Homo sapiens: one gene and its partners. The protein of the gene in region 1 interacts with the protein of each later gene in a pairwise test. Each region holds a gene or a part of one and is shown on either strand. Other genes may lie near its edges.

Region 1 (7,025 bases):
TGCTCTGTTGCCCTGGCTGCAGTGCTGTGGCATGATCTCAGCTCACTGCAACCTCCGCCTCCTGGGTTCAAGGAATTTGCTGGAATTACAGGTACCTGCCACCATGCTTGGCTAATTTTGGTATTTTTAGTAGAGACGGGGTTTCACCATGTTGGCCAGGGTGGTCTCGAACTCCTGACCTCAGGTGATCCGCCCGCCTCGGCCTCCCAAAGTGCTGGGATTACAGGTGTGAGTCACTGCTCCGGGTCATGAATTTAGTTATATGTTAAAAGTTGGGTGAAGAAAGAGTTGGGTGGGGAAAGAAGAGAAGCTTAAGGGAAGAAAGTTATGCTGCTTTGCAAATCACGTATCTGTATTCTTTACACACACACACACACACACACACACACAACATTATAAGTATTTACTTACATTCACTGTTCAACTGGGATGGTTAGAAAGCTTTACATTCTGGCCAGGTGCAGTGGCTCACACCTGTAATCCTAGCACTTTGGGAGGCCGAGGCAGGCAGATCACCTGAGGTCAGGTGTTCGAGACCAACCTGGCCAACATGGTGAAATCTTGTCTAACTAAAAATACAAAAATTAGCTGGGTGTGGTGGCACATGCCTGTAATCCCAGGTATTTGGGAGGCTGAGGCAGGATAATCGTTTGAACCCGGGAGACAGAGGTTGCAGTGAGCCAAGATCTTGCCACTGCACTCTAGCCTGGATGACAGAGAAAGATTCCGTCTCAAAAAAAAAAAAAAGAAAAGAAAAGCTTCACATTCTTTCTTAAAATGCTGTAGCAATATGTCAGCCTGTTTCTTTCAGAAGCCTTTTGTTAAAGGTTGAAGACGATTAAAAAGAACAGAACAAAATCAGATTATGTATTTTGATAGATGTGAACATATAAAAATTTTCTGAGCTTTTTTCCAAAAATTTTTGATGGCTGATGTTCATTTCCCTATTATATTTACAAGTAGTACATATTTCAAAAAGGTTGGATGAAAATTACCAATACTATAAAAAGAAGAGATACCCCAAAATGCTAGTGTTTGACAGTAGCCAGTGGGAAAACAAAAAACAAAAAAAGCCATCTTCATGAAGGAAAGTAGAACTTTACCTGTTGTCACCTCAGAATTAGGCATTGCGAAAAGTATGATTTTATGATCTCAAAGTATGTTTACTATGCATTATTTCTAGATAATTTTCCTGTCCTGTAAGCTCTGGGTCTTGACTTAATGAAATGTTTTCTGCTTAGACTAGCTGAAGTGAAACCTTTAAATTCTTATCCACTTTCCCTTCCTGATTTGGCTGTTTATACCTGTAAGAGTATCCATTTTTGCTGGGTTTCATGTTTAACATTGAAGGGTTTGGACTTTCATGCTCTGTAAGGCTGAATTAAAGCCATCCTTTTTGGTACTGCTACATTAGCATTTTTTCTCAAACTCAGCTGCCATTTACCTGAAGAACATGGTGACACAATACTGGCCAGATCGAGAACCTCCACCAGGAGAAGCAATATTTCCATTCAACATTCACGAAAACGATCGCCAGCAAATACGTGATAACATTGTGGAAGGAATAATTCGGTCTCCAGATTTAGTGAGGTATGTGGTGCTATATATTTGTGATTACTAGAAAGCATGAAATGGTTAGATCTGAGGGTGGGTGCTGTTGGATCTAATCCTTGGCCTCATGTTTCATTTTCTAAAGAGGTAAAGTAATAAAGAGGGACACTCAAAGAATATTATTTTACTTAGTGGTCTTTGCATTTGTAATTCTTTGCCTCAAGATATTTTGGAAAAGATTTTGTTGTCGTATGTTGCCACAAAAAGAGGTAAGATTTAAAAAAAATGATACTTAACCAAAACAATTGTGTAAGTCTTGCTACTTAAATGACCTTTATTCTTAGTAATGATCTCTTGAGTTTTTTTACTACCTGCTTTTCTTTTCTTTGATACAGAGAGACTGATTCTGGGAATTTTTACCTACTACCTGTCTTAATCTTTCCCTGTATTTTTATTCACATTTATGAATTGAGCATGTTTTCCTTCAGAGAAGACAGGATAGAGTAGGTATAAACTAGAAGAACTGTCTCCAGTTTTTTACAGTCATAGATTAGATGCTGTAGAGCAGTAGTGTCCCTCAGAACTTTCTGCAGTGACAGTGTTCTGTGTCAGTGCTATCTAATATTAGCCACAAGGCATCAATGACTGTTGAGCACTTGAAATGTTGCTAGTTGTAACTGAGGAACTGAATTTTTAATTCTATTTACTTTTGATTCATTTAAAGTGTGCATATTTAACTAGCAGCTGCTCTATTGGACAGAGCAGCTGTAAAGTCATAAAAATTTTGCAATCTTAAAATAGGAGAAACAAATTCTTTTCAACATACAAGATAGTAATTAGGTATCTTTTGAAAATGGGAGGGACAAATAGGTGAAAACAGAGGTAGAGGAATGAAATTTTTTAATATCAAGAGGTTGAATATAACGTTAGCCCTTAGTATCTAATAGCCATCATGACATAAGCAGTGGAAAAGGAAGGAAGTACGACGGGTAACAGGAAGGAGAACAAACATTGAACTCTTAGAGCAATTAATTTGTTAAGAGGAGAAAATAGGTGTACTGGTTAAAAAGAAAAAATCACTATTATTCTTATTGGTTGCCCAAATGCCAGTCATGGGACTGATACCCCTGTGGTACCATCATGTATCCATTTATTTTCAAAATCTTAAATTTTCAGATCTCCCTTAATCTTCGAGTGGTTCTACACAGTAATGCATGAAGGATGGCCTTTCATAACCATCCTTTGCTTGGAATGAGAAAGGACTGGGAGAATCAACCTGAAGATGAAATTTTAAAAAATGAAAAGCTTCAGTTTTATTTTTTACAAATATGACATTTATTGTTTAAAGGAGCAGCTACTACTGGCACTAAAGGAGATCTTTTATCTTTATTACGGGACGGTTCTCTGTGGCTTTGCTCCTTTTATGTCCTTAAGGCTTAATTATAATCATTGTTGAAATTTCTTCCACCTATTCTCAAAGTTTAAGAGTATTACAAAGGGATTTTTCAAATAGATTTGATAACGTGAAGAAAAGGCATCATTTTGTTTAATTTTACCAGTTTAAGTGAATCTGAGTTACTGGTTGTTCAACTGAAAATGCTTTATTTTTTTTTTAGTTGCCCTGTGGAATCCTAATTTTGCCAAGTTTGTTTTCTAACCATTTGAAAATGTCATGTAAGGTCATATTTGGTGATAACATTGAATTGATAGTTTATAGAAAAGAAATTTTTCCCCCTATTTTCTTTTCAGTTCCAGTTAAAGTTGAAATCTCATTGAGGAAATGATTACTTATCTATGTTATCAGATAACTTATTTTAGCATTTAACTTTGTGGTTTTATTAAAGGAATATTTTCTTTTTCTGTTTTATGTCTCTTCTGTTGCCTTTTTCATTTATTTCTTTGGAAATAGCTCTTAGCTCTCCTCTTCAGGAATTGCCTCGCTAATAATACATGTTTCTTTCTTATACTTGGGGTACAAAAATTAGTATCTCAGACTGCTTTGGATAGATTCAACATACGATGTTGGGTTTTAATTGATAATGGATGAGTTCAAGGTTTTGGCCCATAGAGAAGCTTCCCACCATTATGTAGGCCTTCTTTGTACTTACTTGTACCATCTTTAGACTAGGTTTATCTGTTTGAAGTGTTATTTTTTCCCCCATTCAGGATATGGTAACCAAAATATGAGATATAATAAGCTGGAAATTTTACAGAGTGGAGGTAGATTCATTGGAGTTTTTTGAAAATTTTAAACTATTTAAAACAATTTTTTTAAACTGTATTTAGGATAAGATAGTTTGAAAGGTTTCATTCATTTTAGAAACTCACCCATTCTGTTTATTTTCAACAAGTTGAGCCACTGAGGATGTTTTTTAGATATGTCTTTTTCCCCTACCCCACATATGTAAGTATATAATACACGTAAATAGAAGATAACAAACTTTTATGTAAAATATTAGAGGTCTTTGAAACACAGTATTTATAATTACTTAGATTTTGGACTTTTCTTCCCTACTTTGTAGAGTCCAATTAACAATGTGTCTCCGTGCCATCATAAAACATGATTTTCCTGGTCACTGGCCAGGAGTGGTCGACAAGATAGACTATTACTTGCAATCACAGAGCAGTGCAAGCTGGCTTGGCAGTTTATTATGCCTGTATCAACTGGTGAAGACATATGAGTAAGTTGGTTTCCATTGGCTGAAGAAAGCAGCCTTGTGTAACTTAGAAATAATGAAGTTGCAAAGAGTGGTCTGTTGTGGATGTTCTGCACAGGTTATCAGATTAGTTTGGGAAATGTTGGGTTAAACATGCTTAAATGTGTTTATTTGCTGCAGTTATTGAAAGAAACTTTAATGTGCTGATGGATATTGCTAACCTCTGAGACAGTGATATAATATGAAGCACTTCTCAAACTTGTTAGTTGCACAGTACCATTTATTAACAGCTTTCCTTGGAAACTCTGATATAGAGATACCTTTATATTTGTCTTCTAGGGAGTATATTAAGTAAACCAAAACATTTACTTTTTTGGATGCAAGATAGAAAATGTTAACGTTTCTTTGCTAATGACATTCTTTTCCATAAAAGTAGCTTGGGTAGGTAGAGGACTAATATCACACTTAATAGTATTGCTTTCTGGTTTCTAGGAAGATTGCTACATGTGTATATGAAGTCCTGTAGTTCTCCTTTTAAACTGACTAGTTCCTACTCTGCTTATGAAATTTATAGAACATATTTTAGATTTATGGCAATTAAAGCAATCTAAGAGCACCTAAATTTTAAACTATTTTAACTACTCAATTCAGGGAGAAATATAATAAGAAAATTCCCCCCATATTATTTGTTATATAGTCTATTTAAAATAGCATAGCAACTTATATTTTATAGTAAGAATTTTGGCTGGATGAAAATTAATTTAAATACTAGAAACATTCATGTAGGAAAACTGCAAAATGGTCTCGGGTTGTTTTAAACTAGTCTAAATCTTTCCAGAAAGATTTTAGGTGTTGTGCCTAAAACAGGATGTGTTATTTTAAATTTCTTTTCAACTTAATTCTAGCAATTCAAACAAACTAGAAGCCAATGTTAATGACTTTGTTTTGTTAGTTTTATGTATTTAAAAAATATTTTATAATTTATTGTTGATGGTTCTTTGGGTGGGAAAAATTACTTTTCTGTTTTTGTCTTTGCTCATGTAGATATAAGAAAGCAGAAGAGAGAGAACCTCTTATAATAGCAATGCAGATATTCCTGCCTCGTATTCAGCAACAAATTGTTCAGCTCCTTCCTGATTCCTCCTATTATTCTGTATTACTGCAGAAACAAATTCTGAAAATCTTTTATGCACTTGTTCAGGTAGGTTTCTATTGCAGAAAACAAACATGGAGTCCTGTATTTCTGCCTGACACATGGAAAGTGCTCAATAAGTGTCACTTATTATTAAAAATTATTTTGTATTATCCCATATATTTCTTTAAAAAATGCTTATGAGGAACAGGTTCACAGAAATTAATTACCCAAGATCGTCTCAATGGCATATCTGCCCCTAAGTGCTTTTCACTCCAGTGTCTGAAATCATGGGTAAAGCAGAACCAGGGTAGGTAAACCTACCTGCTCTAAAACCTGATTACTCGCAACTATCTGTTCTGTAGCATTCCTGCCTATAGATTAGTTATGATTACAAGAGAAGAAGAAGGAAAAGAAGAAGGAAAAGAAGAAGGAAAAGAAGAAGGGAGTCCCTCTTCTATTGGGAAATCATATTGATGGTAGTTTCTTTGCATTTGACTCAAAGCTAACAGAGGATTTAGGGTTCATTTTCCTTGGTTTAAAATACTGCCTAAAAAAAAAAAATCTGAATGCTATAAGGGATACCAACATGGGAATCCGGAAAGAAATGAGAAGATAGAGATGGAATATGTTTGAAATATAAAAATATTTAACATCAAATCCTTGAAAGATTTGGGTAAATTATTTAGGTCTGATTGGAGGAAGAATAATTGTTTTCAGTCTTAACTGTTTGATGAATGAATTAAACTCTATTACATGCTTTCTAGTTGAATTTGTCGTGAGAAGAGGATGGTTTTGTTGAGCTCAAAAACCATGATAGTTTGGATCCATCCTTGGCTTTTTATTGACTTAGATACTTAAACTATTTCAAAATATTTTACTTTAATAAAGATTTATATTTTTATTAAAGCTTCCCCTTTTAAACTTTTAATAGGGATAGTCTGAGGCAGATATTTTTTTTTTTCCCCCAGAGCAGCCTTTTTGCAGGGAAAGAGAAGAGGGAAGGAGGCAAATGTGAGAAGAGAAGAAACTAGAATACTAGGAAAATATGTTCTCTCACTTGTTTTGAAATAATATTCAGAGGCCAGACTTCCTTTTTCTATTGGCAGAAACAGCTAGAAATTGGGAAGTAAGACAAAGGCTAATGAAATAATTTTTCTAAAGCCTCTACCTCTAATTGGTTTGCTAAGACGACAGAATCTTCATATTTTTCTCAGTCTATACTTGCTAAAAACCTGGAAAACCTCAACATTTTTAACCATTTTGGTAATCTGTTATGTACTAATACATTAATATTCTCCTCTGGGAAGTAGAAATTTAGAAGGCATTAGGAGCCACTATTACAATGCTGACATAAGTAAAAAGCGATAATATGAGAAGGAGCAGACAATTTTGTTTTTAAAAGTATGAGCAGCCGGGTGCAGTGGGTCAGGTCTGTAATCCCAGCACGTTGGGAGGCCAAGGTGGGTGGGTCACCTGAGGTCTGGAGTTCAAGACCAGCCTGGCCAACATGGTGAAACCCCATCTCTAGAAAAATACAAAAATTAGCCAGAAATGATGGCGGGTGCCTCTAATTCCAGCTATTCCAGAGGCTGAGGTGAGAGAATTGCTCAAACCCAGGAGGCGGAGGTTGCAGTGATCTGAGATTGCACCATTGCACTGCAGCCTGGGTGACAGAGCGAGAC
Region 2 (6,825 bases), on another chromosome or scaffold:
TCCACTTTTTCTCTCTTTTCACTTAAGCAGATCAGGTTGGAAGAAAGAGGCCTGGTTAATGCTTATTTCTTGCTTCACAGGAAAGCCTGTGCCCATAGGCCTTGGTTTGTTTGTTCAGTGTTGATCTCTCTCTGTTGACTTCGATCAGCAATCGGAAAGCTGATTCTCAGGTTGCAGTGCCAGTCCTCTACCCCTTATTTTGTCTGGGATAAGAAATAGGATCTAAGAAAATTCAAGTCTGAGTAGCTACAAGGTCCTTTTCCAGCCTCCTCTCAAACAGTTTAGCAGATCCCCTGGCCTGTCCCTACCACCAGTTCTCATCTTTAAGGAATGCGTATTTAGGAAATGGTAGTATCCCTTAGGACTGTCTTACCCCTGTGAATAAATTACAGCCTGCTTAAAGTTTAAGGGGAAGAAACCTCTAGATTGTGTCATCCTCCTTTAAGAGTTTAAGTTTCATGTATGTTCTGGTACTTTATGTTCCAGAGGAGTATATTCTCAAAGGGTAGTTTACATACTGTGTTAGTCTGTTCTCACATTGCTATAAAGAAACACCTGAGACTAGGTAATTTATTCATTTATTTATTTTTGGGGTTTTTTTTTTTTGAGACGGAGTTTCGCTCTTGTCGCCCAGGCTGGAGTGTGATGGCACAATCTCAGCTCACTGCAACCTCCACCTCCCGGGTTCAAGTGATTCTCCTGCCTCAGCCTCCTCAGTAGCTGGGATTACAGGTGCACACCATCATACCTGGCCAATGTGTGTGTGTGTGTGTGTGTGTGTGTGTGTGTGTGTGTGTGTGTGTGTTTTAGTAGAGATGGGGTTTTGCTATGTTGGCCAGGCTAGTCTCGAACTCCTGACCTCGGGTGATTCTGCCCACCTCAGCCTCCCAAAGCGCTGGGATTACAGCCGTGAGCCACCAAGCCTGGCTGAGTCTGGGTAATTTATAAGAAAAGTTTAATTGGCTTATGGTTCTACAGGCTGTACGGGAAGCATTAGTGCCAGCATCTGCTTGTAGGGAAGCCTCAGGAGGCTTACAGTCATAGTGGAGGGCAAAAGGGGAGCAGGCATATCAAATGATAAAACCAGGAGCAAGAGAGAGTGGCAGGGGGAGGTGCTACACACTTTTAAGTGGCCAGATCTCATGAGAACTCACTCATGATAGGGAGGACAGTACCAAGAGGGAGGGTGCTAAACCATTCATAAGAAACCACTCCCATGATCCAGTCACCTCCCATAAGGCCCAACCTCCAACACTGGGGATTACATTTCAATATGAGATTTGGGTGGGGACACACATCCAAATGAAATCATATCATTCTGCCCCTGGCCCCTCCCAATCTTATGTCTTTCTCACATTTCAAAATACAATCTTGCCTTTCCACTAATCCCTAAAGTCTTAACTCGTTCCAACATTAACTCAAAAGTCCACAGTCTCATCTTAGACAAGGCAAGTCCCTTCTACCTATGAGCCTATAAAATAAAAGACAAGTTAGTTACCTCCAAGATATACTGGGGGTATAGGCATTGGGTCAACACTCCTGTTCCAAAAGGGAGAACTCTCTGCCAAAAGAAAGGGGCTATAGGCCCCATGAAAGTCCAGAAACCATCAGGGCAGTCATTAAATCTTAAAGCTTCAAAATTATTTTCTTTGACTCTGTATCTCATATCCAGGGCACTCTGCTGCGAGGGGTGGAGTCCCTAGGCCTTGGGCAGATCTGCCCACATGGCTTTGCAGTGTTCAGTCCCTGCAGTGCTCTCATGGGTTGTAGTTGAATGTCTCTGGCTTTTCCACATGCAGGGTGCAAACTGCCAGTGCATCTTACATTCTGGAGTCTGGAGGGCAGTGGCCCTCTTCTCACAGGCAGTGCCCCAGTGGGGATTCTACATGGCGGCTCCAATGCCACATTTCTCCTCTGCACTGCCCTAGTATAGGTTCTCTGTGTGGCCTCTGCCCCTGCAGCAGGCTTCTACCTGGACACCTAGGCTTTTCTATACATCCTCTGAAATCTAGATAGAGTTTCCCAAGCCTTAACTGTTCAACTGTGTATACCCACAGGCTTTATATACCATATCAAAGCTGCCAAGGCTTACAGCTTGCACCCTCTGAAGCAGCAGCCTGAGCTGTAACCTGGCCCCTTTCAGCCGTGGGTGGATCTGGAGTAGCTGGGATGCAGGGAGCAGTGTCCCAAGGCTGTGCAGGGCACCGGGCCCTGGGCCTGGCCCAGGAAACCATTCAGTCATCCTAGGCCTCTGGTGGAAGGGGCTGCTGTGAAGGTCTCTGAAATGCCTTTGAGGCCTTTTCCCCATTGTCTTGGCTTACTAGTACTTGGGTCCTTTTTACTCATGCAAATTTCTGCAGCCTGCTTGAATTCCTTCCCTGAAAATGGGCTTTTCTTTTCTACCACATGGCCAGGCTGCAAATGTTCCACTTACTCCCTTTTAAATACCAGTTCCAGTTTTAAGTCATTTCTTTGTTCTCACATCTGAGCATAGATTGTTAGCAGACAACCCACCTCTTGTGTGCTTTGCTGCTTAGAAATTTCGTCCACCAGATGCCCTCAATCACCATTCTCTCAAGTTCAAAGTTCCACAGATCCCTAGGGCAGGGGCACAGTACAGCCAAGGTCTTTGCTAAAGCATAGCAAAAATGACCTTTGCTGCAGTTCCCAGTAAGTTCCTCATTTCCATCTGAGACCTTAACCAAGACTTCACTGTCCATATCACTATCAGCATTTTGGTCATAACCATTTAACCAGTTTCTAAGATGTTCCAAACTCTCTCTTATCTTCCTATCTTCTTCTGGGTCTTCCAAACTCTTCCATCCTTTGCCTGTTACCCAGTTATTCCAAAGTCACCTCCACATTTTCAGGTATCTTTATAGAAATTCTCCACTTCCCCGTACCAATTTTCTGTATTACTCAATTCTCACATTGTTATGAAGAAATACCTCAGACTGGGTGATTTATAAGAAAAGAGGTGTAATTGGCTCACAGTTCCTGTACAAGAGGCATAGTGCCAGCATCTGCTTGACGGTGGGGGGGGGGGCTCAGGAGGCTTACAGTCATGGCAGTAGGTGAGAGGGGAGCAGGCACATCAAATGGCAAGAGCAAGAGTGAGGAGGGAGGTGTTACACACTTGTAAATAACCACATCTCACAAGAACTCACTCATGATAGGGAGGACAGTACCAAGGGGGATGGTGTTAAACCATTCATAAGAAACCACTCCCATGATCCAATCATCTCCCATAAGGCCCCACCTCCAACACTGGGGATTACATTTCAATATGAAATTTGGGTGGGGACACACATCCAAACTATACCACCTAGATTATGTTACTTACTTCCTATCATATTTCATTTTATTTACTTCCTATATCATATTTCTTTCTTTTTTTTTCCCTTTCCTTTTTTTTTTTTTTTTTTTTTTTTGAGACAGAGTCTCACTCTGTCACCCAGGCTGGAGTGCAGTGGTACTACCTCAGCTCACTGCAACCTCCACCTCCTGGGTTCAAGCAACTCTCCCATCCCAGCCTCCCAAGTAGCTAAGACTACAGGCGCCTGCCACCATGCCCAGCTAATTTTTGTGTATTTAGTAGAGATGGGATTCCACCATTTTGGCCAGGCTGGTCTTGAACTCCTGACCTCAAGTGATCCGCCTGCCTTGGCCTCTCAAAGTGCTGAGATTACGGCCATGAGCCACCACACCCGGGCTTGACCATATTTCTTAATCCTCATTTTATATCTGTGACCCTCAGAGCCAGTGAGACAAGTAACTAGTTAAGATGGTGTTAAGAGCCACGGTTTGAATCCAAGTTTGTCTGACTTTGAGTCAGCAATCTTTACATTGTGTCACACTGTGACATTTTAGGAAGATTAATTTGGTGTAGGATTCTAGGTGGCCTCGTAGGAGGAAAGAAACTTCTGGCAGGAATACCAGGTACAGTGTGCAGGGTTTCCTGATCTGCCTTTCCCAATCCCAGCTCTTCTGCATGTGTTTCCTTAGTTCCATCTTCATTATGTAGCCTACTCCAGTGGTCAGTGCCTTCACTGTCCATCCCTCCTGAATGGGCTCACTCTTTTCTCTGCTTATGCAGTACATCTGCCATCCCCTGCTTTCAGTTCCCCTGTTATCTTTGGATCAGTTCACTGTTGTTTCTCTCCCTTCCTATTTCTCTACCTAATTTTGGGTACATGTTTGAAAGCTCTCAAATGTGCTCAGCAGTTATTTTAGTTGATAGCTAGTTTAATTCTCTCATTCCTACCTTATGCAGTTTCCAGTCTCCTAGCACAGAAACCAATGTGCATTTGAATTTTTTTTTTTTTTCAGACTGGGAGACAAGACTTGAAACCAAAGAGCCAACTCCGAAGCCGGGTATTACTGAAGATTTATGCCATGGGGTAACAATGGAAAGGGAAGGTATCTGGCATTCTACTCTAGGGGAAACCTGGGAACCTAATAATTGGTTAGAGGGACAACAGGATAGTCATCTGAGCCAAGTGGGAGTTACCCATAAGGAAACCTTCACTGAGATGAGAGTATGTGGAGGTAATGAATTTGAAAGATGTTCCAGTCAGGATTCAATCCTTGATACACAGCAAAGCATTCCTATGGTAAAAAGGCCCCATAACTGTAATTCACATGGAGAAGATGCCACACAAAATTCTGAGTTAATTAAAACTCAAAGAATGTTTGTAGGAAAGAAGATCTATGAATGTAATCAGTGCAGCAAAACCTTCAGTCAGAGCTCATCCCTTCTTAAGCACCAGAGGATTCATACTGGGGAGAAACCCTATAAGTGTAATGTATGTGGGAAACACTTCATTGAACGATCCTCCCTTACTGTACATCAAAGAATTCATACTGGAGAGAAACCCTATAAATGTAATGAATGTGGGAAAGCCTTTAGTCAGAGCATGAATCTTACTGTCCATCAACGAACTCACACCGGAGAGAAACCCTATCAGTGTAAAGAGTGTGGCAAAGCCTTCCATAAGAATTCATCTCTTATTCAGCATGAAAGGATTCATACTGGAGAGAAACCCTACAAATGTAATGAATGTGGTAAAGCTTTTACCCAAAGCATGAATTTGACAGTTCATCAGAGAACTCATACAGGAGAAAAACCCTATGAATGTAATGAATGTGGAAAAGCCTTCAGTCAAAGCATGCATCTTATTGTACATCAGAGAAGCCATACTGGAGAAAAACCCTATGAGTGTAGTCAATGTGGAAAAGCCTTTAGTAAGAGCTCAACTCTTACCCTACATCAGCGAAATCACACTGGAGAAAAACCTTACAAATGTAACAAATGCGGGAAATCCTTTAGCCAAAGTACATATCTTATAGAACATCAGAGACTTCATTCTGGAGTAAAACCTTTTGAATGTAACGAGTGTGGAAAAGCTTTCAGTAAGAATTCATCTCTAACTCAACATCGGAGAATTCACACTGGAGAGAAACCTTATGAGTGTATGGTGTGTGGAAAACATTTCACTGGACGATCATCCCTTACCGTGCATCAGGTCATTCACACTGGAGAGAAACCTTATGAGTGCAATGAATGTGGAAAGGCATTCAGCCAGAGTGCTTACCTTATTGAACATCAAAGAATTCATACTGGTGAGAAACCCTATGAATGTGATCAGTGTGGAAAAGCCTTCATTAAGAATTCATCCCTTACAGTGCATCAGAGAACTCATACAGGAGAGAAACCCTATCAGTGTAATGAATGCGGAAAAGCCTTCAGCCGGAGTACAAACCTTACACGACATCAAAGAACTCATACGTGAGGAATGTTTTCACTGGCCCTTACCTCATGATTAACTCTTCAGTAATAATCATATGAGACATACAATGTAGAAACCTAATAAATGTAATGATTGTGGGAATCTTTCAGTTGAAGTACAATATGTCATATCAGATAATACCACTGCAGAGAATCCATCTAAAAGTAGAGAAATCTTGATTCAGAATGTATAATTTCCTTTATATCAGAAGGTTTAAATAGCTAATATAAACAATGAAGAGTCATGCTGAAGATAAGTTCTGTTATATCATACCGCACATTCTCCTTTGGCTATCAGAGACTTTACACTGGAGAGAAAAATGTGAGAGTGTTTAACTGGACAGCCCAGAGACCTGGTATGTAGTCCTAATCTGCCACTGCCTTGGACAACTTGCCTACTTCCACCAGGTTATGGTTCTTTATTTGGTAAATGAATGATTTTGGAGTTAGAAATCTTGTAGGAGCTCTGTTAGCTCTAAAATGCTACAACTCTATAAATATAATGAATGCTGGGAAATCTTTGTTCTTTTACGATCTTATGCTGTCTGTATGCAGTCTAGATGCTCTTGTTCCACAATCTGGTTTCCTTGGATCCTTTTAGTCAAAATGATTTACCTTTACGAATTCCTAGTACCCTTCCATGCCCCTAATCTTCCCCTGCATTGTTATTTTGTCCCCTAACTACAGGCTGGTTTCCATAAATTAATGGAATAAGTATGCAAATGTTTTCATTTATTTATTTATTTATTTATTTTGAGATGGAGTTTCGCTCTTTTGCCCAGGCTGGAGTGCAGTGGCTTGATCTCAGCTCACTGCAAGCTCCACCTCCTGGGTTCATGCCATTCTCCTGCCTCAGCATCCCAAGTAGCTGGGACTACAGGCGCCTGCCACCATGCCTGGCTAATTTTTTTGTATTTTTAATAGAGATGGGGTTTCACCATGTTAGCCAGGATGGTCTCAATCTCCTGACCTCGTGATCCACCCACCTCGGCCTCCCAAAGTGCTGGGATTACAGGCATGAGCCCCCGTGCCCGGCC
Region 3 (7,025 bases), on another chromosome or scaffold:
CGCACCTGGCCTGATCCATGATACTCTTCACCTTTCCCAGATATGTCACGGTTATGTGTTTGTGTTGGGAAGCCAAGACAGAGGAGCCAAAAGGTCATATTACATCACTATGGGGACCCCAGATGCACCTCGTTTTAATCTCTTTTTTTCCACCCCTAGCTCTAGCCTCTCGGAATTTGTCTTCTTCAGTGGAAACCCCGAGAAGACTGATCAGTTCTTCAGTTCTAAAACAATGGCCCAGGTAAGTGTATATTTCTCTTTCCTTCTTGAGCTATGATATTTGCGTTCTGTGCATCTGCTTGTGAATTATCTGAAGCCTTTTATCTAGTCAAGCTCTTTATAATTACCTGTTTCCCAGCTCTTTCTATTCCAGTGAATGATAATGCCACGTAGCTCCGTGTCTGCCTTTTTGGGAAATCACTGAGCAGGTGATTAAGTATCTCCTGTTTGCTCCCTTTTTTGGCAAGGGTAATTTTGGAGCAGTGAAGTAGCAAAGTCCTTTGAGGGAAATATTTAAGTCAAGTCTGTGGTTTGATGAGTTAGATATGTTGGTCCCATCTGACCACATGAGAAACAGATCCTCCACTGATCATGTTTTCTGCGTAGATAAGAGGGAATGCTCATATTCGCCGGTCTGTCTTAGTATGTGCTCAGATCCCAAGCTTTATGGGACTTTTGGAAAGGGATGGGGCTGTGATTAGGACCTTTGAACAGAGGTCATGTTCCTGCCGGGAAACTGGAGGATAAATTTTATTATTGAATGGATCTCTCAGACCACAAGATGATTCTAAGTCATCTGACATCCTTATCCTCTAAATCAGAAACAGGGGGCCGGGTGTGGTGGCTCACACCTGTAATCCCAGCACTTTGGGAGGCCCAGGTGGGTGGATCACTTGTGGTCAGGAGTTCAAAACCAACCTGACCAACATGGTAAAACCTCATCTGTACTAAAAATACCAAAATTAGCAGGCTATGGTGGCATGTGTCCATAATCCCAGCTACTTGGTAGGCTGAGGCAGGAGAATTGCTTGAACCCAGGAGATGGAGGTTGCAGTGAGCCAAGATCATGCCACTGCACTCCAGCCTGGGCAACAGAGCAAGACTCTGTCTCAAAAAAAAAAAAAAAAAAAAATCAGGAACGGGGGAAAGGCAGGGTTATGGATGGTAATAAATATGAAGATCTTCCAGTATGGAAGTAGGAGATGATCACATACCCCAGAATCGGAGAAAGCCTTAGGTGTTTTGGGCAACCTAAGTGAATAACTGTAATAAACAGTCTGACTTACCTGTGTGGGAATTTTTTAAATGCTTAAAAGGAAGACTGCTTAAAATGTAGTTTGGCATGATGAACTGGAGGCTTGAAAACATTCAAACATGCAAACCGTATTTTCTTTTTTTTTTTCTTGGGACGGAGTTTCACTCTTGTTGCCCAGGCTGGAGTGCAGTGGTGCCATCTTGGCTCACCTCAACCTCTGCCTCGCGGGTTCAAGTAATTCTCCTGCCTCAGCCTCCTGAGTAGCTGGGATTACAGGGATGCGCCGCCACACCCAGCTAATTTTGTATTTTAAGTAGAGACGAGGTTTCTGCATGTTGGTCAACCTGGTCTCGAACCCCCAACCTCAGGTGATCCGCCTGCCTCAGCCTCCCAAAGTGCTGGGATTACAGGCATGAGCCACCACACCCAGCAAACCCTATCTTCTTTTCTTTTCTTTTCTTTTCTTTTTTTTTTTGAGACAGAGTCTCGCTCTGTCGCCCAGGCTGGAGTGCAGTGCCACAATCTCCGCTCACTGCAAGCTCTGACCACCCCGGGTTCATGCCATTCTCCTGCCTCAGCCTCCCGAGTAGCTGGGACTACAGGCGCCCACCATCACGCCCGGCTAATTTTTTTGTATTTTTAGTAGAGATGGGGTTTCACCATGTTTGCCAGGATGGTCTCGATCTCCTGACCTCGTGATCCGCCTGCCTTGTTCTCGTGATCCGCCTGCCTTGGCCTCCCAAAGTGTTGGGATTACAGGCGTGAGCCCCCCGCCCAGCCCCAGCAAACCCTATTTTCTAAAATAAAAGTTCTTAAACAGAAATCTTGATTTTTCTTCCCCCCTTAAAAGAAAAAATGCTGTAGGAATCCACACTTGTTGAGAACTTATAAGGCAGGCACGTAGCAGACACTGCTTGTAAGCAAGAAGAAAACTTGGATTGTTTTATCCACTTCCTGGCAGGTTTGACTAACTGAGGATTCTGCACAGTAAAGTCATTTTCTCTGCAGCGGTAGAGCTCTTCAGTGACATGCAGGCATTCTGCTTCCGTCACAGTTACAGTGATGTCCTTACCGCCCCTTGCCGATGTCACGGGTGTTCAGTCTGCTCACGGTGTTCACCCTACCCAGAGGGTGGCCTCCTGTCTCCTTCATCTGGAAGCTGTTTCCTTTCATTTCATCATGCACGTGTGGGTTTCTGTTTCAGGGTTTGGTGACGTTCGCCGACGTAGCCATAGACTTTTCTCAGGAGGAGTGGGCCTGTCTGAACTCTGCTCAGAGGGACCTGTACTGGGACGTGATGCTGGAGAACTACAGTAACTTGGTCTCACTGGGTGAGTTGCACGCCTCAGATAACTTAGACTGCCTCCTGGAATATCCGCTCTCCCCTGTGAATTTCAGGACCGCCTTTCAAGAAACTAGTTGAATTTCTTCTTCCTGTCCCCAAGGAATGTATTGAGCCTTATTGATGTGGCCGTGAGCACCACAACCTTCCCCTCCCATCCATCGGTTACCTTCCCACCTTTGTCGACTCCCCCGTAATCATCTCACTTCCTTAATGTCCGTGGAATGAGTGGGAATTCTGGGATATTTATTTCATGACCATCTTCAAAGGAGCCAGTTTGTCCTGTGAGAGTATGTTTATACCCAAATTGCTATTGGTGGTCGGTGTTACTCTAGGGACCCACGTCTAGGGAAAACATGTGGACACAGTGCCCTGAATTGTTCTAGTAAACCAGCCTATGTGTTTGAAGTACAGTAGATCAGACAAACAGAATTTGTGTAAAACCAAAGTGGGCGTATTTCATTTCTTACATACCATACCTGAAGTGAGGTTGAAAGTTACAATCCCCGAACTGTGAGTTAAACATTGAATGACAATATCTTGCAAACATCCCTGGAAACTTATTTTTCTTCTAGCAAAAATAACAACAATGATATTAATGGCTAAGCTGTCTGTGGTGACCCTGCCTGTAATCCCAGCTACTCGGGAGACTGAGGCAGGAGGATCACTTGAGCCCAGGAGTTGAAGGCTATAGTTAGCTATGATCATACCACTGTACTCCAGGCTGGGTAACAGATCAAGACCCCATCGCTAAAACAATAAACAAATAGGAATATATATATTTTATATATATACACACACATATATATTATATATACACACACATATATATTATATATACACATATATATTATATATACACATATATATTATATATACACATATATACATATACAATATATACATATATAGTATATATTATATATATAAACTGCTTACTGTGTGCCATGCACTGTGCTAAGCACTGTGTGTGTAAGTACATTGCATTTCGTTCTCACAGGCAGATGAGACAGGCACAATCATTGTCTATTTTGGAGATGAGGATACTGAAACACAGTGATGCAGTCAGACGGAGGGAGCAGGAGCTAGAATCAGATTTAACAGTTTTGGTCCCCAGATTCCTTGCTGCCAGCCACCATGTTCCACTTGCCTCCAGGCATAATGCCTACAGAAATTTAAAATATGACCTTTTCTCGGCCAGGCGCAGTGGCTCACGCCTGTAATCCCAGCACTTTGGGAGGCTGAGGTGGGCGGATCACTGGAGGTCAGGAGTTAGAGACCAGCCTGGCCAACATGGTGAAACCCTGTCTCTACTAAAAATATAAAAATTAGCCGGGCATGGTGGCGCACGCCTGTGATCTCAGCTACTCCGGAGGCTGGTGCAGGAGAATCATTTGAACCTGGGAAGCAGAGGTTGCAGTGAGCCAAGATCACGCTACTGTGCTGCAGCCTGGGCAACAAAGCGAGACTCTGTCTCAAAAATAATAAAAAATAAGGCCGGGTGCGGTGGCTCACTCCTGTGATCACAAGACTGGCAGGCCAAGGCAGACGGATCACGAAGATAGGAGTTCGAGACCAGCTTGGCCAACAGAGTGAAACCCCATCTCTCCTGAAAATACAAAAATTTGCCGGGTGTGGTGGCGCATGCCTGTAATTCCAGCTACTTGGGAGGCTGAGGCAGGAGAATCACTTGAACCCGGGAGGTAGAGGTATAGCATTTCTTTTTTTTTTTAAGTTGAGATTTTTTTCTTTTTTTCACTCTGTTACTCAGGCTGGAGTGCAGTGGCGCGATCACAGCTCACAGCAGCCTCAACCTCCTGGGCTCAAGCAATCTTCCTGCCTCATCTCCCTGAGTAGCAGGGACCACAGGTGCACACCACGACACCCGGCTAATTGTTGTGTTTTTTCTTAGAGATGGGATTTCGCCATGTTGTCCAAGCTGATCTTGAACTCCTGGGCTAAAGGAATCCACCCACCTCAGCCTTCCAAAGAGGCTGGATTACAGGCGTGAGCCACTGCACCTGGCTCAATAGCATTTTGACTTCTGGTTGTTATAAATTTGATTAATACTCAATCAAAAAAAATTTAAGGCCAGGCATGGTGGTTCACGCCTATAATCCCAGCACTTTGGGAGTCCAAGGCGGGCAGATCACCTGAAGTCAGGACTTCAAGACCAGCCTGGCCAACATGGTGAAAACCCGTCTCTACTAAAAACACAAAAATTAGCCGGTGTGCTGGTGTGCGCCTGTAATCCCAGCTACCCAGGAGACTGAGTGAGGCAGGAGAATTGCTGGGACCTGGGAGGCAGAGGCTGCAGTGAGTCAAGATCATGCCACTGCACTCCAGCCTGGGCAACAGAGCAAGACTCCCTCTCAAAAAATAAAAATAATTTTTAAAGAATTTTTGAAGTTTTGAGCTTGAAATTTTTCCTCAAGTTCTATGTCCTCTAGCATTTCGTTTTTTTAAAGGAGGGCATATAATTTCTAAGCCAGAGGTACTGTCTTATAGAATTAAGGGAAAGAGCCTTGATGGTTGTGAGGGAAGAGACAAGACAACAATACGGAGGAAAGTGGGAGCCAGTCAGCCACCCGTACAAAGAGCATCCCCACAGGGCAGGGAACAGGCACACCCTGAGGTGTTGGAGAGCTTTCTCCAAGAGCTCAGGCCCAAAGCCTCTAGGAAAGAAAGATCTTACCACGAACTTGATCTTCACCCCATTTCCCTGTCACCTTGTTTTTCCTGTCATATTTAACCCCATTTTATGTGCTGCTGGTGCTGCTGGTCTGTGGGCCACGCCTTTAGTAGCGGGTAGAGGTGACAGGGTCCTCTGCCCTTTATCATTCCTGAAAGTGGGTTAGCCTCGCTTTAAGTGCCCGTTTTCTTTTTCTCATATCTAGGTGTTGGCAGTACTGCTTCCCGGGTGTTGTTAATGTGTCACCACCATGAAGCACCTGGTGTCTGGTTGTAGCTCCTCTTTGCCATTGGCAGTCATTGGCACTGCTTACATTCATCACACTGGGGGCTCAAATGGTGCGCGCCTATCACTGCCCCTTCATTTATCAGCTGTTATAATTTAAAGAGAAACTTTGTTTCATCTGCTAATTGCTCATGCAGTGGCACTGTTCATATTGGATAAGAAGGATAAAAACTTTGTTCTTTTTCTTTGTCAGTTTTTATGTTGTATTTTTTTCTTTTCTTTTTTTTTTTTTTTTTTGAGGCAGGGTCTTACTCTGATTCCCAGGCTGGAGTGCAGTAGTGCAGTCTGGGCTCACTGCAGCCTTGACTTCCGGGCTCAAGCCATCCTCCCACCTCAGCCTCCCAAGTAGCTGGGACTATAGGTGTACACCACCACACCTGGCTAATTTTTGTATTTTTTTTGTAGAGACAGGGTTTTGCTATGTTTCCCAGGCTGGTTTTGAACTCCTGAGCTCAAGTAATCCACCCACCTCGGTCTCCCAAAGTGCTGGGATTACAGGCGTGAGCCACTGCACCTAGCCAATTGCCAGTTTTTATAATAAAGGTCTGGTTTCCTAGCGTGTTCCAGAGCTGGCCATTTAACATTTTGTAGTATCATTATGAACTTATAGATTTAAACGTTTGCTGTTTCTCAGTCCTTTGCAGTTAGCCTCCTTATTGATGCTCAAGTTCTAAACTTTTCCTTATTGTTCTTCTAAACTTTTTCACATTTTTTATTAAATTTAGTCTCGTAAATTATCTTTTTTGTTGCTTTTGAATGTTGTATTCTTTTACCCAGTTGCTTTTTTTTTTTTTTTTTTTTTTGAGACGGAGTCTTATTCAGTCGGCTCACTGCAACCTCCACCTCCCGGGTTCAAGCGATTCTCCTGCCTCAGCCTCCCAAGTAGCTGGGATTATAGGCTCACACCACCATGCCTGGCTAATTTTTGCGTTTTTAGTACAGACAGGGTTTGTTTGTTTTTGTTTTTTGTTTTTTGTTTTTTTGATATGGAGTCTAGCTCTGTCACCCAGGCTGGAGTGCAGTGGCACAATCTCGGCTCACCGCAACTTCTGCCTCCCGGGTTCAAGCGATTCTCCTGCCTCAGCCTCCGGAGTAGCTGGGATTACAGGCACCCACCACCATGCCCAGCTAATGTTTGTATTTTTAGTAGAGACAGGATTTCACCGTGTTGGCCAGGCTGGTCTCGAACTCCTGACTTCATGATCTGCCCACCTCGGCCTCCCAAAGTGCTGGGATTACAAGCGTGAGCCACCGTGCCCAGTCTGTTTTTTTGTTTTTGTTTTGAGACAGAGTTTCATGCTTGTTGCCCAGGCTACAGTGCAATGGCATGATCTCGGCTCACTGCAACCTCTGCTTCCCAGGTTCAAGCAATTTCCCTGCCTCAGCCTCCCGAGTAGCTGGGATTACAGTCATGCGCCACCATGTCCGGCTAATTTTGTATTTTTAGTAGA
Region 4 (7,543 bases), on another chromosome or scaffold:
TGCAGAATAATTTTTTTTCCCTCTCTCGTGGTTTTTCTTTTCCCCATTTTTTTCCCCTGTTGTTTGCAAAGTTGAATCTGGGGTCAGGAGTTCTAATTGTAACCTCAGACTGGAATTCCAGATGGTGCGCTCAGGACTGGAAGCAACTCTCAGTTCATCAATTTCATGGGCCTACGTATCTGCTCTGGCCACGGCCTGGCCTCCATCCCCACTGTGGCATTAATGCAGAACAAATTGAGACATATCCTCTATATAATTAGTTCCAGAATTTAAAAAGATTTACGGTATAATAATAGAGGCAGTGCCGCGGAATCCTTTCACTGAGGACTCTCGGGGAGCTCGGGGACCATCTCGCGGTGGCATCAGAACAGACGAGTAACCCCAGCGGCTCCAGGCACTGCGAACTGGGGGAGAGGGGGAAATTTTGCACCGCATTCGGCAGTACCTAACGGTTCCGGGCTCCCAGATAGGGTCAGCGAGGAGAGTTAGGACAGTAAGTGGGGACTGGTTAAAAAAAATCGACTTAATTTTGAAATGATCAGAAGAAGCTGGGAGTAGTTATCACAAAGCCCCTCCCTTGCCCCCCCCTTTTTTTAATTGAAGGAATGACGTTGAAATTTTCACCGCCAGCGCGGGGCTGGGAACCATCCTAAACACTTGCCCTGCAGCCCCGAGTGGGCAGATTCCGAAGAGTTGGAGTCGGCGGGGAGGGGAGGAACAGCTGTTGGGCTGTCTTGCGCGTGGGGCTCGGGGCGCGGGCCCCGGGGAGAGGCGCTAGTCGAAAGCTTGTTCCTCTCCCGCGACAGGCAGCAGCGAGGTCGAGCCACTCTTTATTACGGCCTGCGGGCCCCGCGCGCAGTGTGGCTGTCCCCGCCCTTGACCGACCGCAGCGCTTTGGGGTGTTTATTCAGTTGTCCGCGGCCGCTGGGTGACTCCCGGAGGGCGGCCCAGGCGTGCGCACTGGTCCCTGGGGTTGCGGCTGTAGCAGCCCAGCTCCGCGCTCTGTCAGATGCAGTGGACAGCGCCGGGGTGAAAGTAAGGGTTGAGAAATCCTCACTGCCCTGCTCCTACCCAGCCTCGATTTTTTCATATTGCAATAATTATGCACCTTCGAGGCCGGGATGCCTGCGCTTTGCCAGTGTATCAACGCCACATGGTTTTCCAGGGGCTGTCCTCGCCTCTGCATCCCATTAGCTCTGAAGAGGTAGAGGGGTGGTGGGTAAAACCTCCAACTGGACGTTGAGAGACCCGGGTTTCAGCTCGGCGTTGCCACTAACTTGTTTCCTGTCCTTAAACAGTAGTAGTAACAAAAACTGTAAAGTTGATTGAGTCAAAGGCCCACACTGCTCTCCTATCTAATCCTCAGAACAACTCTATGAGGTGGGCGCTAGTATCCCATTATCCCGTTTGACCAGTAAGGAAACTGAGGCTCAGAGAGACTGCGGAACTCGTCTAGGGTCACACAGCTGTTGGTTACCTGGCAGAGCTGAGGTTCCATTCTGGGGCCACCAACCCCTTGCTCTTTACCGCTGCGCTCCATAGACTGCCTCTCCTTCGGCTGTCTGGGCCTCAGTTTCCTTCTCTGTAAAACGAGAAGTTTAATCTGCAGCTTTCTTTGCCAATCGGTGGTTCAGACCAGGAACCTCTGCTACAGATCTCGGCGCTGACAGGGGTAAGAAGGTGGGTGAAAGAAGGGGGCGCCCAGTTTTCCACAGCCTGCTTTTCTCTGGGACCTCGCGAAGGGCGGGCCTCGCGAGCTAAAGGAGGTACAGGAGAGCGCCTATCGTCCGCGGCGGGTGAAGGTGCTACCTGCCTTCGTGCTAGGCTGTGAGTCCTGGTGCTTAGCTCAGGGCGCCAAGGCCAGTGTAGCTGGCATGTCCCCCTTGGAAAACCTCAGGTCTCCCGCAGAGAACGTTACCCACAACAAAGAAGAGGACAGAGAGGCATGGAGCGCCCTGCGACTGCAGGAGTACGTCAGTTCCCCAGCGCTGGCTTAGTGTCGCCTGGGCTTCCGGGCATGTGGATCCGTTGGGGTCGTACGGAGACTTCCTGTCGGGTCCCTGGGGTCCTCCGACTGCGGCTCCTCAGCTTAGCACTTTCTTCTTGGCCCCGCAGGCTGCAGGGAACTCCTCCCACCTCTTTAGTCGGAGAAGTCCAAGTCGGGCGAGGGGGCACCCCGGGGTTCGCACCGGTGCTCTTCCCCTCCCCGCCCCCACAAGGATTCTGAGAAAATAAATGGCAGAGGAGAGAGGAGTTCTACATTTGCTTGGCTCTCCTTTCCTCCTATCCACCCCTACATCCCTCACCCCGGGGCAAAAACTTATTTTTGAAAAATGTTGGCAGAGATTTACGTGTCTTTGCCTTACCTGGGTTTCACAAACACAACGACTCACATTCAAGCCAGCCTCCCTTCAGATAACCTCCTCTCCCCCCGCTAAAAGTGCCAAGGATGGTAAAAGAAGAAACAATCTCAATCTTTTCGTTTGGAAATGAAAGTCCCCGGCTTTTCATAAAGGGCTCCTCGCCCCTCACAGTTGAGTCCTAGTTAAGAAAAACGACTTCCAAGTAGAAATAATAGGCGGGGAGAAGGAAGGGAGATACAGGGATCTGGGGGGTTCTTAGGGCAACTGGCAGTGAATTTTGTCTCGAGAGTCCTTTCTCCACTCAAAAAACCAAACGCGCGAGCCCCGCGAAAGGTTTAGGGATAGATCGTGTGGGAGAGGACTGAGCAGAGAGCGTGGGGGCAGTGTCTTGTAGAATCTTTCTTTTCTTAATAATAATTTTAAAAGCTTCTGAGTGGAGACGACGCAAAGTCAAGCAGCAAAGGTGGCCTGGGAGGCAAGCGGAGGGCTCAAGTGCCGCATCTTTACCCTCAGGGTCTCCTGCGCCTACGGGATGCGCATTCCCAAGAAGTGCGCCCTTCGAGTAAGTCCTGGGCCCGCACACACTTCGGGTCCGCAGCCAGAATTTAATGGCGACAACGTTTATGCAATGCAAGCTAAAAACCAAAGCGTAAAAAATTACTATGTCATTTATTGAAACGCCATTCTTTGTCAAACTGCAACTACTTTGCTTCACATAAGTTTGGCTGGAAAGCTTGCAGCCCCAGCCCGGGCCAGCCAGGTACAGGAGGCCGGACTGCAACCGGTTGCTTCCCTCCCGTCGCGCCTGGCCGTCCCACGCTGCGCCGTCGCTGCTGCCTCCTGGCGCCCCTGGGATTTTATACGCACCTCTGAAACACGCTCCGCTCCGGCCCCCGGTTCTTCTCCTTGCCTAGGGGTTGTTTCCCAATAGATACTGACTCCTTTAGAAGATCCAAAAACCAAACCAAAACACCCCCTACCCGCCCCAAACACCTGCTCTGGGGCGCGGGGGCTGCCAAACAGAGACTAGACGAAGGGAGTCAGATTTAGCGAAGCTCTTCGAGCTCCCAAAGATTCGAACACTAACTCGCGCCCGTGGGCCGATGGAGGTTCTCCCTACTCCACTCCTTGGTCCCCTTAACTGGCTTCCGCCTCCTGGTCAATCACTGAGCAACCAGAATGGTATCCTCGACCAGGGCCACAGGCAGTGCTCGGCGGAGTGGCTCCAGGAGTTACCCGCTCCCTGCCGGGCTTCGTATCCAAACCCTCCCCTTCACCCCTCCTCCCCAAACTGGGCGCCAGGATGCTCCGGCCGGAATATACGCAGGCTTTGGGCGTTTGCCCAAGGGTTTTCTTCCCTCCTAAACTAGCCGCTGTTTTCCCGGCTTAACCGTAGAAGAATTAGATATTCCTCACTGGAAAGGGAAACTAAGTGCTGCTGACTCCAATTTTAGGTAGGCGGCAACCGCCTTCCGCCTGGCGCAAACCTCACCAAGTAAACAACTACTAGCCGATCGAAATACGCCCGGCTTATAACTGGTGCAACTCCCGGCCACCCAACTGAGGGACGTTCGCTTTCAGTCCCGACCTCTGGAACCCACAAAGGGCCACCTCTTTCCCCAGTGACCCCAAGATCATGGCCACTCCCCTACCCGACAGTTCTAGAAGCAAGAGCCAGACTCAAGGGTGCAAAGCAAGGGTATACGCTTCTTTGAAGCTTGACTGAGTTCTTTCTGCGCTTTCCTGAAGTTCCCGCCCTCTTGGAGCCTACCTGCCCCTCCCTCCAAACCACTCTTTTAGATTAACAACCCCATCTCTACTCCCACCGCATTCGACCCTGCCCGGACTCACTGCTTACCTGAACGGACTCTCCAGTGAGACGAGGCTCCCACACTGGCGAAGGCCAAGAAGGGGAGGTGGGGGGAGGGTTGTGCCACACCGGCCAGCTGAGAGCGCGTGTTGGGTTGAAGAGGAGGGTGTCTCCGAGAGGGACGCTCCCTCGGACCCGCCCTCACCCCAGCTGCGAGGGCGCCCCCAAGGAGCAGCGCGCGCTGCCTGGCCGGGCTTGGGCTGCTGAGTGAATGGAGCGGCCGAGCCTCCTGGCTCCTCCTCTTCCCCGCGCCGCCGGCCCCTCTTATTTGAGCTTTGGGAAGCTGAGGGCAGCCAGGCAGCTGGGGTAAGGAGTTCAAGGCAGCGCCCACACCCGGGGGCTCTCCGCAACCCGACCGCCTGTCCGCTCCCCCACTTCCCGCCCTCCCTCCCACCTACTCATTCACCCACCCACCCACCCAGAGCCGGGACGGCAGCCCAGGCGCCCGGGCCCCGCCGTCTCCTCGCCGCGATCCTGGACTTCCTCTTGCTGCAGGACCCGGCTTCCACGTGTGTCCCGGAGCCGGCGTCTCAGCACACGCTCCGCTCCGGGCCTGGGTGCCTACAGCAGCCAGAGCAGCAGGGAGTCCGGGACCCGGGCGGCATCTGGGCCAAGTTAGGCGCCGCCGAGGCCAGCGCTGAACGTCTCCAGGGCCGGAGGAGCCGCGGGGCGTCCGGGTCTGAGCCGCAGCAAATGGGCTCCGACGTGCGGGACCTGAACGCGCTGCTGCCCGCCGTCCCCTCCCTGGGTGGCGGCGGCGGCTGTGCCCTGCCTGTGAGCGGCGCGGCGCAGTGGGCGCCGGTGCTGGACTTTGCGCCCCCGGGCGCTTCGGCTTACGGGTCGTTGGGCGGCCCCGCGCCGCCACCGGCTCCGCCGCCACCCCCGCCGCCGCCGCCTCACTCCTTCATCAAACAGGAGCCGAGCTGGGGCGGCGCGGAGCCGCACGAGGAGCAGTGCCTGAGCGCCTTCACTGTCCACTTTTCCGGCCAGTTCACTGGCACAGCCGGAGCCTGTCGCTACGGGCCCTTCGGTCCTCCTCCGCCCAGCCAGGCGTCATCCGGCCAGGCCAGGATGTTTCCTAACGCGCCCTACCTGCCCAGCTGCCTCGAGAGCCAGCCCGCTATTCGCAATCAGGGTAAGTAGGCCGGGGAGCGCCCCCTACGCGCGGGGCAGTGGCGCCAGGGACTCTCCGCTCTAGGACACCCCCCTCTCCTACCCCTTTTGACCGCAGCTCTTACCCAGCTGCTTCCCAAGGGCCGTGAGGATAGCGGAAGCGGCGGCTGGGGAGGAGGCCGGAGAGTGGGAGTGCACGCAGGCACTGGCCCCCGACATCCTCCAAAGCCAGGCAGAGCTAGGAGCCTGACTGTTCGCAAGAGCCGGGAGGGCGTCTGGGGCCCCTTAGAGTCCGAGAGATTCCGGGACTGCTAGTCCCCACGGGAGTGGAACCAGGAGACCGGCGCAGTGTCTGGCTCTGCCTTGGGGAGAGTTTTGTTAATTAAGGAAACGCCAAATTGTCACCAAGCGTAGCGCTTTTCAGACGTCTGGACTCTGGATTCGGAGTGGGACCAGCGCGGGGGTGAGCGCCTGTGCTGTGCTGCCTCCGCAGCGCTAAAATGTCCAGGAGCACCTCCAGCCCTTATAATACGGTGTTGGCACACACTTAGGTGCACATTAAGTATCGTAGAGAACTAGAATGAGCACATGCACCTCCAGTAACTAAATGGCTTTCTGGAACAGCGTCGTGTCCGTGGATAGCTCCCGCGTATGGTAATACAGAAGTGGATCTTCACTGGGCTTCGCTCAGGCGGCGGCCACGCAGGTTCTGGGGATGGAAGAGAACTTGACTTATCCGAGTCCAAGCTATGCGGGACCAGGTTCTACCGCAGGCAGTGGAAGGAGGCACGAGCTTTGGCCTTTCTTTCAGCGCATCTGGGGCGCCTCTTCATCTTGTAAACGCGGGGCTCAGCTGGGACAGTATTTCTTCAAGACCTGGGGTTAGAACAAGGACAGGGTTATTCGCTGTGCTTAGTCAGGATACAAGGAGGGAACTCGGCACACGATAAGTATCAGGTTGGTTTCTCATCCCGCGCCGATGCCCGCCCACCTCTCTTTCGCCTGGGCGGCGCGGACCCGAACCTGCGGAGCCCCTGTAGTTTGCCCTCTTCATTTATTTTCAGTGGATTTCCACGCTATTGAGAACCTAAGCCAGTTCGGTTTGATTCGGTAATTTAGTAAACGCTTTACTAATACAATGGCGGATGCTTTTCCTGGAGCAAAATTACTCGAGGGCCTAGGGACCGGGATGTTTTTGGAATGCGTGGGAAGCAGAGTGTATCTTTTGCAGGAGGTACCTTCGCCCAAGGCTCGGGAGAAGGGCTCTGCCCTTGTTGCCCGCCTTCACCCGCGCCTTCTAAACGCGCGTCTTCAGGCCGCTCCTACCTTAGCCTAACCAGGAGCACCCGGCCCCCGCGAAGCCTTGGAGAAATCGAAACCGCCCTTTTCTTCGGGAGAATCTGGGATCACTGTCCTGTGGAGGAACCGCAAGCAGACCCAAGGGTTGCCTCCACTCTATGCTTTTAGTTAGTGAAATTAGTGTTTTGTACTCAAGGGGCGTTGGGACAACTTACTGGTCGCTGAGGCTTGTGTTCTTTGATCAGATCGCGCCACCTTTGTTTAGCAGGCTGGTGTTACTTTTGGGGAGTTTCTAGGTCTCAGTGTCCCCGTCTATAAGAGGACAGCTGAGATGGGCAACCTGGAGATTGGGTCCGGCTTGAAGTTATACTCCATAGATGCAGAAGCGCTACCCACCACCCTCTTGGGGCTTTAAATATGGAACTCGGCAACCCATCTAAACATCTGTGACTGAGAAACAATGAATCCGAGAGCACTGTCTGCATGTGTGCTATTTGGAGGCGGTTGAGAAACCATCGAATCCATGCCCCTGGGGCACAAAATACTACTACGCCATTATCTTTTTAGTACTTCTAGGGGATTTTTGAAACCTGGGTTCTGTCGCTTCGTTTGGGTCCCTTGTCCAGCCCTTTTCAGGGCAGGTCTGGTGCCTGGGATCTTATCACATGTCGTGGGGGGTGGGACTGTGGGTTTTGCAGCCAGCAGGCATTACACTTCTGGAAAATATCTGGATTCTTCTGTAATATACAGGCGTGGCTGCCATGGAGAAAAAGTTAAAAGGGGACCAGGACTAGTAGGTGAATGTATCCTTCTTCTCCACCCTGGAGAAAAAGCCCAATGGAGAGAGGGCCCTAGATTCAAGTCATATAGCCTGGAAGCACCATCTCCAGGTTTAAGT

The links.
Region 2: the proteins of IPO8 (region 1) and ZFP2 interact in binary tests that used the Homo sapiens proteins (3 or more experiments, as listed by UniProt).
Region 3: the proteins of IPO8 (region 1) and ZNF331 interact in binary tests that used the Homo sapiens proteins (3 or more experiments, as listed by UniProt).
Region 4: the proteins of IPO8 (region 1) and WT1 interact in binary tests that used the Homo sapiens proteins (3 or more experiments, as listed by UniProt).

The regions. Positions count from the first base shown.
Region 1 is NC_000012.12:30,678,866-30,685,890, reverse strand, and holds part of IPO8 (importin-8), read left to right. Parts: exon of another isoform or gene 1-91; intron 92-1,433; coding exon 1,434-1,590; intron 1,591-4,073; coding exon 4,074-4,232; intron 4,233-5,252; coding exon 5,253-5,409; intron 5,410-7,025. UniProt on the Homo sapiens protein: Involved in nuclear protein import, either by acting as autonomous nuclear transport receptor or as an adapter-like protein in association with the importin-beta subunit KPNB1.
Region 2 is NC_000005.10:178,926,908-178,933,732, forward strand, and holds the end of ZFP2 (zinc finger protein ZFP2), read left to right. Parts: intron 1-4,329; 5' UTR 4,330-4,406; coding exon 4,407-5,792; 3' UTR 5,793-6,305; downstream 6,306-6,825. UniProt on the Homo sapiens protein: Probable transcription factor involved in neuronal differentiation and/or phenotypic maintenance.
Region 3 is NC_000019.10:53,569,145-53,576,169, forward strand, and holds part of ZNF331 (zinc finger protein 331), read left to right. Parts: intron 1-159; 5' UTR 160-232; coding exon 233-241; intron 242-2,459; coding exon 2,460-2,586; intron 2,587-7,025. UniProt on the Homo sapiens protein: May be involved in transcriptional regulation. May play a role in spermatogenesis.
Region 4 is NC_000011.10:32,432,525-32,440,067, reverse strand, and holds the start of WT1 (Wilms tumor protein), read left to right. Parts: upstream 1-4,528; 5' UTR 4,529-4,707; coding exon 4,708-5,368; intron 5,369-6,027; exon of another isoform or gene 6,028-6,303; intron 6,304-7,543. UniProt on the Homo sapiens protein: Transcription factor that plays an important role in cellular development and cell survival. Recognizes and binds to the DNA sequence 5'-GCG(T/G)GGGCG-3'. Regulates the expression of numerous target genes, including EPO.